2 separate regions of the Homo sapiens genome follow, and region 1 is linked to region 2. The links come from fine-mapping of genetic effects on gene expression. A gene starts in region 2. The other region holds a variant in brackets. All regions are shown on one strand. Distances are between the middles of the regions.

What was found. PIP is the estimated chance that this variant, and not a neighbour inherited with it, causes the effect.
Region 1: its variant is the best candidate, but not a certain one, in a credible set for the expression of OR2L13 in prefrontal cortex (BrainSeq, PIP 0.88).

What each region holds. Positions count from the first base shown.
Region 1 is chr1:247,933,347-247,936,273 of GRCh38, forward strand. OR2AJ1 (olfactory receptor family 2 subfamily AJ member 1) reads left to right here. Exons shown (of 2, transcript NM_001355235.2): 2 at 401-1,993. The coding sequence starts at 423. The coding sequence ends at 1,409. It also overlaps the pseudogene CLK3P2. Among named protein-coding and RNA genes, the nearest start is that of OR2AJ1, 9.9 kb to the left of the region's middle. The variant A/G (reference allele first, on the strand shown) is at 1,807.
Region 2 is chr1:248,093,516-248,096,442 of GRCh38, forward strand. OR2L13 (olfactory receptor family 2 subfamily L member 13) reads left to right here and starts at 1,669. Exons shown (of 3, transcript NM_001395936.1): 1 at 1,669-1,739. LOC105373275 (a long non-coding RNA gene) reads right to left here and starts at 2,027. Exons shown (of 4, transcript XR_949369.3): 1 at 1,889-2,027.

The DNA of each region.
Region 1 (2,927 bases), 160 kb before region 2:
TGCAAACATGTGAAAATGGAGCAGAGCAAGGAGGACCAGGAAATTAGGGTTTAAGTGGGAGCCCTACAATTTTTTAAAGGGTGTGCAAGGATAGGCCTCCTTGGGAAAGTGACATTTGAGAAAAGAGTAGATTTGAGTAAATTATGTGGAATTAATTAAGATTATGAGACTCAAGATGGAGCCAAGGGCCCACTCAATATACTGAATATCATCGATTATTTGAAGAAAGAAATGCCCAGCTTGTAAAACATGCCCACTCCAAAAACTGGCTAAGAGTATTTTGATGTTGATTACAAAACATGCATCACTAACTCTCATTTTATTATGCAGGTATATTATTGTTAGATTAAGATTTACACTAATATTTTTTCTTTATTATTAATTCATTATTTCTTTTTAGGTTAAAAAATAGAGAATTCATGATGGGCCATCAGAATCACACTTTCAGCAGTGATTTCATACTTTTGGGATTGTTCTCTTCTTCCCCAACAAGTGTGGTCTTCTTCTTAGTTTTATTTGTCATTTTCATTATGAGTGTAACAGAAAATACGCTCATGATCCTCCTCATTCGCAGTGACTCCCGACTCCACACTCCAATGTATTTTCTGCTCAGCCATCTCTCCTTAATGGATATCTTGCATGTTTCCAACATCGTTCCCAAAATGGTCACTAACTTTCTGTCAGGCAGCAGAACTATTTCATTTGCAGGTTGTGGGTTCCAGGTATTTCTGTCCCTCACCCTCCTGGGTGGTGAGTGCCTTCTCCTGGCTGCAATGTCCTGTGATCGCTATGTGGCTATCTGTCACCCGCTGCGCTATCCGATTCTTATGAAGGAGTATGCCAGCGCTCTCATGGCTGGAGGCTCCTGGCTCATTGGGGTTTTCAACTCCACAGTCCACACAGCTTATGCACTGCAGTTTCCCTTCTGTGGCTCTAGGGCAATTGATCACTTCTTCTGTGAAGTCCCTGCCATGTTGAAGTTGTCCTGTGCAGACACAACACGCTATGAACGAGGGGTTTGTGTAAGTGCTGTGATCTTCCTGCTGATCCCTTTCTCCTTGATCTCTGCTTCTTATGGCCAAATTATTCTTACTGTCCTCCAGATGAAATCATCAGAGGCAAGGAAAAAGTCATTTTCCACTTGTTCCTTCCACATGATTGTGGTCACGATGTACTATGGGCCATTTATTTTTACATATATGAGACCTAAATCATACCACACTCCAGGCCAGGATAAGTTCCTGGCAATATTCTATACGATCCTCACACCCACACTCAACCCTTTCATCTACAGCTTTAGGAATAAAGATGTTCTGGCGGTGATGAAAAATATGCTCAAAAGTAACTTTCTGCACAAAAAAATGAATAGGAAAATTCCTGAATGTGTGTTCTGTCTATTTCTATGTTAAATGCCTGAAGGATACTCATGAGAGGTTTCCTAGAAAGAAATCAAAGCTTCTATCTTACCACATATAAGAAGTGAATATTTCAGAAACATTGTTAATAATAAACAATAATATGTGTTTGTGTTGTAAACACGTACCTCTAAAAATGTAGTGTTCCTTCTGTGGTACCAATTATAATCATGCAACAGTTACAGGAAGTAGAAGTTACCCAAGGCGTCCTATTCCCTAACACCAAAATTGTAAGACTTATGAGAATATCCCTAAAAATACAGTCACACATCCATTGTATAAAAGACAAATCCATGTTTATTTTTATAAAACTTTGTTAAATTATATTGCTAACAATCACTTATCAAAAATTCACAAATTCCATATGAAATCATTATTCTTTGCCTGGTTT[A/G]TCAACACCTTTATTTAGTAAAATTTTACAGATACACATATATATGCACACACACATATATATGTACACACATATATACAGATATAAGTTGTGTTAAAATTGAATTACTCATCCTATGCTAGAAGCAACTATACAATATTAGATAGGAATATCATAAAAATTGCCTTATTTCATTTATACATACAGGATGATGTTTTACAAACTCTTCTAGCAATTTATCCTAATAGTTATTTCAAAGAAGATAATAAATATTTCTATTGAGAATTCATTTAATTTTTTTCCTTTTTTTTTTTTTTTTTTTTACAAACACTAAGACACACTTTGTAAGTTTAAAATGTATGGGCCAGGCGCGGTGGATCACGCCTGTAATCCCAACACTTTCGGAGGCCTAGGTGGGCGGATCACGAGGTCAGCAGATCGAGACCATCCTGACTAACACGGTGAAACCCCGTCTCTACTAAAAATACAAAAAAATTAGCCGGGCGTGGTGGCGGGCGCCTGTAGTCCCAGCTACTCGGGAGGCTGAGGCAGGAGAATGGCGGGAACCCGGGAGGCGGAGCTTGCAGTGAGCCAAGATGGCGCCACCGCACTCCAGCCTGGGCCACAGAGCTAGACTCCATCTCAAAAAAACAAACAAAAAACAAAACAAAAACAAAAACAAAAAACACGTATGAACAGCTTGAGTCAAATCTGCCTTCTGGCAGCTGGGCACCAAGTCTGCTCCCCCGCAGGCTCCTGCCTTCCTTCACATTGCACTGCTCATTGTGTGGTTCTGGTCCTGGGACCTGGTGGTAGGGGCTGGAGAATGGGGATTGGGCAGCCCAGTTCCGCTCTCCTCATGCAGTGTCCTGCGTCTGTCATCTGCTTGGGTTGTGGCTTGTGTGGAAGGACCACGACTGAGGTTGCCAGGCCAGCAAAGACGGGGTGCAGAAGAGTCTCAGCCAGAGTGATGTGCTGGGCAGCGTCCAATTTTACCACCCTCCGCATCAGGTCAAACAGCTGCACGTGCTCCAGAGAGTCTTGGAGCATGTCACTCTTCAGACGTTTGCAGTTCTTCACATATGGGCTGTCAGAGCTGTTCTCATCCCAAACTAGGCCCCATTTGTAGAAATATTTCTGCT
Region 2 (2,927 bases):
AAGAGCAATAAAAAATCTGTATGTGATCATAACTGGTCCACTCTTCTTATTTAAAGCACTAGAATGGCTTTGTCCAGTTTCGTACTTCATCGTATTTGCATCCAGTATTTATTGAGTCTCATCTCATCATCTCCTAGGACAAAGGGTGCCAAGATAATTCAAGAATCCAGCATTACTTTAGTTCCGGTTCCATCCATGTTGTTGCAAATGAAAGGAATTCACTCTTATTTTTTTTTATGGTTGAATAGTGTTCTATGTATCTAGTAAATTTTCATTATCCATTATATTACATGAAATAAGCCAGGCACAGAAAGACAAACTTTGAGCATTCTTGCTCATATGTGGGAGCTAAAATTAAAAAATAATAAATATAGTAGAATGACTGTTACCAGAGGCTCGGCAGAGTAGAGTAGAGTGGGGAATAAACTGGAGATGATTAATGGGCTCAAAAATACAGTTAGGATGAATAAGACTTAGAATGTAGTAGCACAACAGGATGACTATAGTTAACAATAATTTATTGTATATTTCAAAATAACTAAAAGTGGAATTGGAACATTTCTAACAGAAAAAATTAATAAATGCTTGAGGTAATAGGTACCCCAAATACCCTTATTTGCTCATTACACATTGAATGCCTGTATTGAAACATCACATGTACCTCATGAATATATGCAACCATTAGATAATCATAATAATTCTAAAAAATTAAAGGAAAAAAACAAAGAACATGGATATTAATTTTATAGCATTATTTCTAATTTCTGACATAAAATATAGCAGTTAGTGCCTTCAAAGATAAAAAAAGAACAATATAACCCCAAATAAAGTGTTCTTTTCTAGTTAACCAATGTATGGATTAAAGAGGTTAAGAGATGCTACAGTTGATTGAGCCCTTCCTCTGCAACAGACACTATGTAAACATTTGGCATACATCATTCTATTTAATTATTAGAATGTCCCTCAAATTAGTCCAGTTGTAAAGATTAGTAACAGGCTGAAATCTTAAGTAATTTTCCCAACTCAGCTTCCTAATTAGTGGCATAGCTGTCAGACTAGAGTATTCTCTCTGACTCTAAATGCTCATTTTATCACATTGTCTCTAAGAGTCAGCTTTCACTTTAGTAGAATAGCTAAATGGATATATATTGTCATGTATCAATTATCTACCCCCACCTAACAAGTAGAAGGAAGTGTTTTATCCTAGTATAATTTAATTTAGTCACAATCATCAATCATTCCCCCTGGAAACTCACTAAAGAGTGGACAGGAAACTATCCTTGGGACTAGTTCTGCTATTACTGAGTCGAGTACTTGTAAGTGGTTCCTGCACTTTTTTAATCCGGAATTCTCTAACTTACATGATGACAGAATTTCCATAAACATAATTTAACATCTTCTATAGCTCTGAAATCATGTACTGGAATATTAAATACACCCCTCTTTAGTCTGATTCTGGGTAGCAGCTGAATGCAGCAAAGTTGATTGGGTTGGTTGATTTGCTTTAAGTTCAGAATTTGAGTTCATCCCCAAATCAGCAAAGTCAAGTGAAGTGACCAAGGTTTTGGCCCCCGTGGACTTGGACACTGGAGATCAATTAGAGGAGAAAGAGGAATATCTAAGGGTTGGTGACTTAAGGTTCTGTGTGTAAAATATAGCCATTCATCCTTCTGTCTTCCAATGGTGGAACCTGAGAGACTTCAGTGTAAAATGCCTTATTCTGTTCTCACTGAAACAAGGTAAGAGGAAAGGAAGAGACTTTATCTAAACACTGCATATGCAAACAGGATAATATTTCACAAGAGCTGGTGAAGTTGTTTTCTGATTTCACCATAAAGACAATGACTAGCTGTGGGAGCTGTAAGGAATGAATATTATAAAGTGTTACCTGGTGTTTCTTCCTCATGAATTTTGGCAGATAAAGAAGAGATTCTCACTTCAGAAAGAGTTTTGGTTTAATGCAGAGCCTATTGATCAGTGATATAATGTTATTGATAGCCTGATATACTATCAGAACATAGTTTGATGCTTACATGTTTTAAATAATTATATGGAATGTTTGCAGATTATGATGTCACTGTAAAGCTGCTGCTTTTTTTTTTTTTTTTTGAGATGGAGTCTCACTATGTCACCCAGGCTGGAGTGCAGGGTCACGATCTCAGCTCACTGCAACTTCTGCCTCCCAGGTTCAAGTGATTCTTCTGCCTCAGCCTCCCGAGTGGATGGGATCACAGGCGCATGCCACCACGCCTGGCTAATTTTTGTGTTTTTAGTAGAGATGGGGTGTCACCATATTGGTCAGGCTGGTCCCGAACTCCTGACCTCGTGATCCGCCCGCCTTGGCCTCCCAAAGTGCTGGGCTTACAGACCTGAGCCACTGCGCCTGGCCATAAAACTGCTTTTTATACCACTATATAAACTGAAGAACTTCGGGCAAAGTGAGTCATAGTAATATAACTGAATTGAGTTGATTTGGGTCGGCTTTATCCTAGAAAGCTTTTTTGGAAATGTTTTCCTATCATCAGGAAACTCTCTGCTGCACAGGGAATAGACAGTTCCATAACAAATTGAAAAAGAAGGCTGGGCACCCAGGTGGCTCATGCCTGTAATCCCAGCACTTTGGGAGGCCGAGGTGGGCAGATCACGAGGTCAGGAGATCGAGACCATCCTGGCTAACACAGTGAAACCCGGTCTCTACTGAAAATACAAAAATAAAAATTAGCCGGGCGTGGTGGTGGGCGCCTGTAGTCCCAGCTACTGGGGAGGCTGAGGCAGGAGAAGGGCGTGAACCCGGGAGGCGGAGCTTGCAGTGAGCCAAGATCAGGCCACTGCACTCCAGCCTGGGCGACACAGTGAGACTCTGTCTCAAAAAAAAAAAAAATGAAAACCAAGAGTGAACTAAAAATGTAAAAAAAGGTAACATGAAC